Regions from separate parts of the Homo sapiens genome. Here region 2 is linked to region 1. The links come from fine-mapping of genetic effects on gene expression. A gene starts in region 1. The other region holds a variant in brackets. All regions are shown on one strand. Distances are between the middles of the regions.

Region 1 (5,386 bases):
TATTGTTGCCTTATGGGATTATACTTGAAATGCATTGTGCTGATGTTCTTGACAGGGCGGAGGGATTTCTCTTTCCTGAGCTCACCAAACTTATTCCAGTGTTGATCGCAAGCTGTTGATGCACAGGCGTCTTGTGGCAAGCCCAGCTTCAGTTTATGTTAGACAATCAGTACACATGCTGGTGTGTTTTCCAATGGCCAGTGATAAGAAATTAAATAAGTATTTGTGAGATTTGCTATTTTTTAATAAAGTAATTGTTTTAAATTAATCTCTGTTGTCTGTTTTGAAGAAACCCATATAGTCTTCAATCTGGGAAATACAAGGGTTCAATCCTTAAAAGTAAACTGTGTTTATAAAATTTGAGGTTCTTGAACTCCTTGCAAATTCTGTACCTTGTGTACATTTAAATACTGGTGTGATGAAAGAATGTGAGCTTTAAAGTTACTTACACCTTAATTTGAATCGCCGTTCTGCCCCCTTAACTTTGTGTTCATGCACGTTTACTCAGGTTGGATTTTTTTCTTTTTTCTTTTTTTTTTTTTTAAATCTAGAAAATGAGGTCAGTAACCAAGTTGGTAGTTGTTGTATGGGGAGTAAGTGAAAAAGCGCGTATAGGATGCTTAGCACAAGCCGGGCACGGTAGCTCACGCCTATAATCCCAGCACTTTGGGAGGCTGAGGCAGGTGGATCACTTGAGGTCAGGGGTTCAATACCCAGACCGGCCAACATGGTGAAACCCCATCTCCACTAAAAACACATACACACAAATTAGCCGGACGTGGTGGCGGGCTCCTGTAATCCCAACTATCAGGGAGGCTGAGACACAGGAATTGCTTGAACTCAGGAGGCAGAGAGGTTGCAGTGAGCCGAAATTGTGCCACTGCACTCTAGCCTAGGCGACAGAGCAAGACTCTGTCTCAAAAAAAAAAAAAAAAAGAGAGATGCCTAGCACAATAGCTGATACCAGTAATGCTCAGTAAACATTAATTTCATCACCCTTTAAAAACAGCTTTATTGAAACAATAATTTATGTCATAAAATGTACCCCTTTAAAGTGTACAATTCAGTGATTGTTAGTAGATTCATAGAGTTATATACCCATCACCGTGATCTAATTCTAGAACATTTTCATCACACTAAAAAGAATCCCATTAACAGTCACTCCTTGTCCCCTAATCCCCTCAGCCTTTGGCAGCCACTAACCTCCTTTCCAGCTCTCTGGATTTTCTATTCTAGACATTTTATATAAATGGAATCATACAATACGTGGCCTTTTGTGACTGGTTTCGTTTACTTAGCATGATGTTTTCAAGGATTGAAGCTTCATCCATGTTATTGCATGTACTTCATTTCTTGTTTTGGCTGATCATATGCCATGGTATGGATAGAACACATTTTGCTTATTTATAACTCAGTTACCTTTGTGTTGCAGAAGATGCTCATGCTTCTGTCTCCTTGTTTCCAGGCCACAGAAATAAGCACCTAATTGGGGGAGGGGAGGAGAGGGACTTACTGAATATTTTTCAAATCTTGATTTTAATAATTTTTGGCTTTCTGAATTCAAAGTATTTTGATCAGTAAATTGGTCTTTTTAATACCCCTTTTAAAAATTACAGCATCATGGAGGAAACTTCATTTGGGTTGTGAGAATAGGGATTTAAGGGGGAAAAAGTCGTACTCTAGGGTCTGACAGGGCGAAAGGACACTTTGTCATGTGACATGTTTTTCTTGGATTGGTCCTGAGATAGAGTAAAGCAAAAAGCTGGTTCCTGCGGGTTGTGACAGAGCAGTGGATTGACCTTGTTTATTCACTTGGTTCATTCGCCCTTTGTGTCACAGGGCCCTAAATGGGTCCCAGGTAGCGAAATATTAGCTTATCTAATTTGTATCCTTTCACACTCCTTAAACACATGTTCAAGGAAACAGGAAAAAATGCAGTGCCTGGATTAGAATAAAATTTAAGGCCTGGTTTGGTGACAGGCACCAGTACTTTTAGCTACTCTGGAGGCTGAGGCGGGAGGATTGCTTGAGCCCAGGAGTTCTAGGCTATAGTGTACAATGATGATTTTACTGGCATACAGATGAAAAAGAAAAAGATATTTGAAATAAAAATAAAAATATAGTGCACAATGACCAGGCCTGTGAATAGCCACTGCACTCCAGCCTAGGCAGCATAGCAAGATCACATTTCTCATATGAAACTTTACTAGAATGAAACTTATGGTTTATTACATAGATGTTGCTTATTCGTTGTAGGAAAAATTGAATTACAGATGATTTTTAAAACTACCAGAGCAAACCATTTAACCTATTTGTGTACATACTCCCAGATTTCTTACACACGTTGCAAAAAAAATAGATCGTACCATTCTGCTGGTTTTCTAAGCTGCTTTTTGTAAGTAATGTACTGTGAGCATCTTTTCATGGCCATAACTATTACATACAAAAGAAAAAAACAGGCTTCACAATAAATAGTTAAAAGACATTTTGACCTGAAACTAATGAAGAAGGGTTTTTTGGTTTTGTTTTTGTACCTCCTGTATAATGCTGAAATTGGTAATTCTGCAGTAAATATTAACATTTTCTGAGGATCTGCTGAAGATGAATGTGACAAAAAATAAGAAACTCCACTTTCCTCATCACACAGCCTTAATTAACATCGCTGGCTTTGTTTGAGATCAAGCAAACGTTGGCTTCAGTGTCCAAGTCTCTTCTTGGGGTCCCACGGCCTTGGGTCTGGCACCTCTGCTGGGCACCTCGCAGGGCTTCCGAGACGTGCCGCGACCCACGGGACCCCACGGAAGCTTTCTCCCACCGCAAGCTCCCTGGAGGCAGGGAAAGGAGCCGGGACCCGAGCCTAGCTGGCCTCAAGAGAAGGGCGGTGGCTCGCACGGCGCGGGCGGCTTTGCTCACTGCAGCTGGGGAGATGCAGGTTGGCCGTCCGGGCGCGGCGGCGGGAGGGGCTGCGGGCCTGTGGGGCGGGGTGGTGGCTCCGTGTTGTTGGATCCCTATGGAGATGACCCTGTCCCTGCCCCACCCCTCTCCGGAGCTGCGGCCCGAGTTGGCGCACTCGATTTTCACTGCGCGGTTCCAAGAGGAGACAGCCGCCACTGTACCGGGCCTCATAGCCACTTCCTAGAGGTAAAGCCCGTGGCTTCTGAGCCGCTAGTCTTTTTCTTGGGGCCGCCCGGGGCACATCGCCTGGGCCGGCTTAGTTTCCCAGTGCAGTCGCCCAGGAAGACCCTAAGCAGCGCTGAGGGGCGCAGGGCCCTCCCTCCGCGACCCTGGAGTCCCTTAGCAGCTCTGGAATTAACCAAGATTCTGAAGAGGCTCTGGGGAGAAACAAAATCCACGCGTAGGGTAGGGTTTGCATCGGGCCATGCCAAGTAAACTCTTACCTCCTCCAGAGAACTGATTTGGGATCGAAGTAAAGTTCTTGAACACTTTGGAAAACGCTGATTTTCATAGGTTCACACCAACTGCCTTCTTCCTTCTGACAGTTCTCTCCCTCTTTCCTCCTATGGGGTCCAAAAATGTAGGGAGTAGGGTGGGGGCTGGGTTGGGGGAATGAGGGAGGAATACAAAAAATCTACTGTGAATATAGGTCTTGGTTATAAGGATAGCTCTAAGAGTTAATATGCTAAGATTTGATGAGCAGGACAAATAAAACAGTGGTACTTTAAAATATCGATTTAAAAATACCGATGCTGTGCTTATTAATAAACTTTGCATATGTATCAGAACACAATATCCTGACATCATTGGTGTTAAAGTTCACTGCAACCCATGCAATTGTATCCAAGCCTGTTAAAGTCTGTTCTGCAGGAACTGACATTTGTGCTCCACAGAAACCTCAAAAATCATGCTCTACAAACACTTATTTCAGTGGGAGGAAGAAGGGTTAAGGACTTGGAAGTTTTATAGCAACAGTTGCATCTTGTTTGTTACAGCTTTAGTTTTATAGCTTTAAACTTATAAATCAGTGAGCACATCCACCATTTGAAAATACCAGCACAAGTATGGTATTTTCTATCACCGCCTGTAAGATCAATAGCCCAGGTTTCCTCAAAACACGCCATTATTTTCATTATCCATTGCTTAGTGTGTACTTAATAAAAATTATATACTGGCATGTAGTTTTACATGCCCTAAATGTGGGACATTTAACTCAACTGGAATTGTCTTTCATTTCTGTTTTTTCACCAATCACACTTACTTTTCTTCTACTCCCGTTCTTTTGTGCGATCTTTAGAACCAGATACCTTTTTGGAGGCATATTTAAGGAAGTAAATTTTTGATAAATAAAGGAATCATTGCACAATTTGCATGTGTGAATTGCAGAAGTACGCGCATGTAGGTACATACCTCTGCCGAGGAGCAGTGTTTTAATTTCTAAGCCACTCTGTCTACTGTAGTGGAGAAGGACCAGACTAACTTGCATTTCTCCAGCTGTATAACAGATAACCTGTGGAAACACAGTTAATTGACATCATTGCTCTTCTGTGTGATCCCAGTGAGGATTTAGCTCTCTATATGGGCTGGCAATTGTTCAGCCATTTCATCTTTTAATCTGGCTTTGGTTGTTCTGAGAGGAAAAAAAAAACAAAAAACTTTTTTCTCTTTACTCTCACACACTCAGTACAGCCCTTCACCTCTTGTCACCAAAATGTATGGGAATTTCTTCCCACCGACAACCAATTCTCCAGTGGCCACCAACTCTACGTCCTATAATTTAACCCAGTTCTGACACTGTGTACCTGGAGTTAGTGTCAGATCCCATACGTTCAGGGCTCAGTCCCAAAAGACTGCCCCCCACTTCAAATGCCAATCACAAGTCCCAGGTTGTGACTATATGTTGTTTATGATTAACCAACCAGTTACAAATCTGGATTCCCACAAGCCCCTCCTCCGGTTTGATTAATTTGCTAGAGTGACTCACGGAATTCAAGGAAACACTTTACTTATGTTTGCCCATTTATTATAAAGGATATTACAAAGGACAGATGAATAGCCAGATAGAAGAGAGGCCCAGAGAAAGGTATGTGGGCAAGGGTGTGGAACTTCCATGCCTTCTCAGCCCCTCCACATGTTCAGCTATCCCAAAGATCCCTGAATCTTGTCCTTTGGGATTTTAATGGAGGATTCATTCATAGGCACAATTGATGACATCATTGGCCATTGGTGATCACTCAACTTGAGCCCTTCTCTCTTCCCCAGAGGTCAGAGGATGGAGCTGAAAGTTCCAGCTGCATAATCACATGGTTGGTTTCCCTGGTAACCAGCCCCCATCCTGAAGCTATCTAGGGGTCCACCAAGATTCACTTCATCTGAACAAAAGATGCTCCTATCACCCAGGAAATTCCAAGGGATTTCGGAGCTCTGTGTC
Region 2 (5,386 bases), 120 kb after region 1:
TATTTGTCCCCTCCAAATCTCATGGTGAAATGTGACCTCTAATGTTGGAGGTGGGCCTAGTGGGAGGTGTTTGGGTCATGGAGATAGATCCCTTGTGAATGGCTTGGTGCCCTTCTCACAGTAATGAATGAGTTCTTACTCTTGAGTTCACATGAGAGCTGGCTGTTTAAAGAGCCTGGCATCTCTCCTTGCTCCCTCACTCACCATGTGACACACCGGCTCCCACTTTGCCTTCTGCCATGATTCTAAGTTTCCTGAGGCTTCACAAGAAGCAGATGCTGGTACCATGCTTTCTGTACAGCATGCAGAACCATGAGGCAAAATAAACCTCTTTTCTTTTTTTGAGACAGGGTCTCACTCTGTCACCCAGGGTGGAGTGTAGGGCACTATCTCAGCTCACAGCAACCTCCACCTCCCAGGCTCAAGCGATCCCCCCACTTCAGCCTGCCAAGTAGCTGGGACTATAGGCGCATACCACCACACACGGCTAATATTTGTACTTTTTGTAGAGACGGGGTTTCGCCACATTGCCCAGGCTGGTCTCAAACTCCTGAGTTCAAGTGATCCGCCTGCCTTGGACTCTCAAAGTGCTGGGATTACTGGTGTGAGCCACTGTGTCCGGCATAACCTCTTTTCTTTACAGATTACCCAGTCTCACATATTCCTTTATAGCAATGCAGACGGACTAACACAGACATAAAACATATAAGGATTGACAGATGAACAGATGGCATGGAGAGATATGTAGTAAAGCAAGTATCCTAAAATAATAATGGTATAAAGTAGTGAATTTACTGATGTACAATGAAAAATTGTTTCAATTTTTCTGTATGCTTAAACGTTTTCATAATAAAATGTTGGGGGAAAAAATTATACCTAAAACAGTTAAAGAACAAGTTAAGAGAACAGGGAATAATAACAACCTTAGAGGGCTGATAATTTTTCTTTATTATATTGAAGACTACAATAAAAGAAACTGAATTTCACCTATAAAGAAGTTCTACCTTATATAGTGGGAAGAATGCAATAACCACTTAAATTTTGAGAACCTGTGACACATACTTAACATAGATTACAGAATATCATCTCCATTAAATAGGCAGACTTTGTTCTGAGCTAGACTGACTATACTACAGTTAAAGGCAGAGAAATGGGTTAGATGATTTCTGGCTGACCTTATTTCTAAAAATTATTTCACATTACTTATGATGTACAAAATTATTATTATAAAAGACATTTTGCATACCACATTGGCAGGAGCACTAGCAGCTGTCTTTTCTTCAGTTTTACTATCTGTTTTGGCAACTCGAAGAGAACTTGCAGGATCAGAAGCTTTTTCAGCCTAAAAATGAATATGTTTATCACTATTAATTCTACATAACATGTAATTATGCATAAATATAGAATATGTACCAAATCAGAATAAAATGTTAAATATTCTGACAAGAAAACTGAGATGATGATAAGAAACTTGAAGGAACTTTATTAAATGAGCCTTCTCTGCTACTGAAAGGCAGATGGGAGAGCAGGTAATAGATGTGTGAGGGAGAGGAGGACAGGGCAAGGATGCAGCTATGTAACAGATGTGTGAGGGAGAGGAGGACAGAGCGAGGATGCAGGTAACAGATGTGTGAGGGAGAGGAGGATGGGGCGAGGATGCAGGTAATAGATGTGTGAGGGAGAGGAGGACGGGGCAAGGATGCAGGTAGTAGATGTGTGAGGGAGAGGAGGATGGGGTGAGGATGCAGGTAGTAGATGTGTGAGGGAGAGGAGGAGGGGACGAGGATGCAGCTATGTAATAGATGTGTGAGGGAGAGGAGGACAGGCGAGGATGCAGGTCATAAATGTGTGAGGGAGAGGAGGACGGGGTGAGGATGCAGCCACTGCACCGAACCTCTAAGTGGTTAGTCTGGGAAGTCTTCGTGGTTGGGAGAAGGGAGGCATCCACCCAGGGGAGTGAGTACGGTACCCTGTGCACACCTCTACATGCCCACTCTGACCCTCCTAGATGCAGCCCAGTCCCCTAATGGGCACGGCAGAAAGTTGTAGGTTTTAAAAGGGAGCTAGTAGGAAATTTTCCATGGCTATGACCTATAAGAAAGAGATTGCAGAATTCCTCTGGTCTCTCCAACTCCACATTTATGCTCAGCAATTTAGGTCAGAGATTCCTAGAGAGGTTCTTGCCATTGGAACTACAATAGAATATCCTAGAACACTGTGAATATTAAATTTTGGTATCCTATAGTCTTTGCTTAACTAAGGCAACTTACTCTCATACAAATTTTAAATGCTTTAATTAGAAGTTTGGCTGAAATTTGTTTTTAGTTAAAGTTGTAATTAGATCTAAAAGTTACATATAGTGAAATTCCCCTTGGGGAAAAGTTGCAATGAGTGGAGCTATGGTAACCATGGCCTCTTATGACAGGGAAATCTTCACCAAATCACACAGACAGATGCTTAGCATTAAGATGGAAACCCCCAAAGCAGCGTTTTAGCCACGGCCAGGCGGTGGTGTCTTTGCATGTGATATCAATCCCCCACCCCCACCAGACTCTGATACTTAGTAAGCATTACACTGCAACCAGCAGATATTGGAGGCCAATAAAAAAGATGAGAAGCACTGACCCAGGGAATATTTTACTCACTGATGTCCCCTCTAATATCTGCTCTGTTGACACAACATGGTATGGGAAGTGACTGCCTGCAGAAAATTAGCCAAGCCCTCGAAAACTGACCGGCAGGACTTCTGGATGTTTCTCGGCTTCATCATCTTGTTCGTCGTTTACATTTGATGCAGCAAATACTTCAAACTGACTGAAATCTGCAAAATTTGGTTGCTCTGGTATCTGCTGAGGTGAGGTACTAGTGTGAGTTATGAGGCCATCGGCATCCACTGGGCGATGCACAGCAGGACCAGGAGCCTGTGCAATGGTTCAGAACAGAGGAACACACATTCTATCAGCCTATCAGTGTCACAGAGTCATCTTCTTCTTCTT[C/T]GAAAACTTAGTATATAAAGATGACCTGTTTTATTATCTGTAAGTTCAGAGAGGTGTATTATAGTAACATTTAGCTCTAAAGAAATGATTAAACCATAAGTGAAAAGCTAAGACACTAAAAAAAAAATTAAGATGATAAACCTCCAATAAAAAGATATTTTTTTTCAAAAACTGTATTGCAAAGAAAGTACAATGAAGGAGAGGGTAGGTCTGGCCCTACCCCCATTCTCCACTTGCATGTGTTTTTTTCTTAATTGGACTAATGCACAATAGTTTCTTCCTTAAATAAGTTATTTTTTTTTAATGTTTCACTGTTTCTTAAAAAGCTTGCTCTAAAAAGTGTGAAAACCACTGCTCTATCCTCCCAACATGTCAGGAACACTTCCCTTCAATTCATCTTCCACTCCTTTGCCAGCCAGACCAATGCTGCTCCATCTTCAGTCTAAAAATATGTTTACTGAATATGTACTTGTGAACAAAACAAATGAGGCCCACTTATACTCTAATAAAGCTGACAGTCCGGAGCAGGAGAAGAGAATAAGTAAATAAGAAATTAAAATAGAGTGTGAGATGTTTTATGACAAAGGAAGTAAAGGATACTAAAGAAAGAAATCTGAAGTCTCTTCCCTTTAAAAATTCTTCATCTCCTCTAAGAAAAAGTCTATCCTTCTTACTACGATATGGACAGCTTCATTTCTCATCACTCCACACATCTACTCCTGTTGTGCTGAACTAACTTGTTTTCCCCTGAGGAATGTGCCAGGCTTAACACAAACCTCCATCGCTTTGTGGATGTCATACCTTCGGTTTGGAATACCTTTTCCCCAATAAATTCCACTTTATCTTTCAAGTCCCTGCTAAGTCTCATTCCTTCATTTCATGTATAATGTGATCCTTAACTTTAGCCACTAAGGCTGTCCCAAAGCATTTTATAAATGTCTACTACAGCACTCTAATTTTGATGTGGAAGGGATGCAGAGGTCATTATACTTCCTTAACTCATGTGGTAAACACATCCAGAGAGATGCAGTGAGGTTATTTAGGGGTATTTTGTTTTGTTTTGAGACAGGGTCTCACTCTGTCATCCAGGCTGGAGTGCAGTGGTGCAATTACAGCTCACTGCAGCCTTGATCTCCCAGGCTCAAGAGATCCTCCCACCTCAGCCTCCCAAGTAGCTGGGACTACAGGTGCACACCACCACACCCAGCTAATTTTTTTGTTTTGTTTTTAGAGATGGGGGTCTCACTATGTTGTCCAGGCTGGTCTGGAACTCCTGGGCTTGAGAAATCCTACTGCCTTAGCCTCCCAAAGTGCTGCAATTACAGGTGTGAACCACTGCACCCAGCCTGGTGAAGTGATTTTGTGAGTCACTGCTAGACCCAGGACATTAATGGATATTTCCTATCTCCCAATCCATTGTTGTTTCCACTAAACTCTTCTCTGTCAAGACATTATCATTTGTTTCACTTTTAAGGCTCTTTCAAAAAATAACTCAGATCATTCTTGAAATGTGCATCTTTCAAAATGAGATTCAGCCTCACTGAATTAAATGCTCATTAAAGATTACCAACAGATCATTCCTGACCTTCCAAATAATTTGAGAATAGAATTAAATACCTAGCAGGCAAAGTGATCATGGGACATTTAGTAATAAATACCTTGGAGAATTACCTGTGAGGGCTGTGGTCTTGGAGGCACTGCAGGAGGATGGGCAACAACTCCAGCCTGTTGTTGTCCTGCATGAATACAAAAGTTCTTCTTTTTAGTAACTGTATAATCACTTTGTTAATAGAAGAAATAGGCTGAATGAATGTGACTACATGATAAAGATTTCTAAGAATGTTTGTTAAGTATTAGAAGGCAAGTACTAACTTGTTACATGGTCTGTATGTAACCTAAAGACCAAATCTCACAGCCTTTCATCAGATCTCACTTTGCTTCTTACCTCTATTACATGAAGCCCTCCTGGCATACTCCTGCCTATTCCCATAATAGCAAACAATCTTGATTTTCTTCGTGTATCTCTGACTGCTGTTTAGGTATCAAATGAAAACTTCCAAATTTTCCCTTTCACTTAACACTTCACTTTTCCTCACCATTCTAAACTCACAGTGACTAAAACATAACTTCATCATCCTCTGCCCTAACTTTTCTATTTTAACCAAGGTAACAACAATACTGCCAGTTCTTCAAAAATTAAAAACCTGGGTAAGTTATGACTCTTCTTCTTCATCAGCCAAATTGAGACCTATCAGTTCCCACCCCCCCAACCCCTTAATATCACAACACCGTTCTTTTAAAATTTCCTGTGACATCTCTCAGGTTCCCATCTTCATTATTTGCACTCAAACACACTTTAAGTAGTCATTAAGAAAAGAAATTGCCTCTCA

Which allele goes with the higher level. Alleles are on the strand shown, and positions count from the first base shown. SD is a standard deviation of normalised expression in the study named.
With allele T in place of C in region 2, the expression in prefrontal cortex of the gene that starts at base 3,036 in region 1 is lower (small effect, 0.31 SD a copy in BrainSeq).

What was found. PIP is the estimated chance that this variant, and not a neighbour inherited with it, causes the effect.
Region 2: its variant is the best candidate, but not a certain one, in a credible set for the expression of ECT2L in prefrontal cortex (BrainSeq, PIP 0.79).

Annotation. Positions count from the first base shown.
Region 1 is chr6:138,793,052-138,798,437 of GRCh38, forward strand. It overlaps ECT2L (epithelial cell transforming 2 like), which reads left to right and starts at 3,036. Exons shown (of 22, transcript NM_001077706.3): 1 at 3,036-3,141. It overlaps CCDC28A (coiled-coil domain containing 28A), which reads left to right. Exons shown (of 6, transcript NM_015439.3): 6 at 1-268.
Region 2 is chr6:138,910,030-138,915,415 of GRCh38, forward strand. It overlaps REPS1 (RALBP1 associated Eps domain containing 1), which reads right to left. Exons shown (of 20, transcript NM_001286611.2): 15 at 4,668-4,732; 16 at 2,736-2,921; 17 at 1,247-1,342. Among named protein-coding and RNA genes, the nearest start is that of REPS1, 76 kb to the right of the region's middle. The variant C/T (reference allele first, on the strand shown) is at 2,997.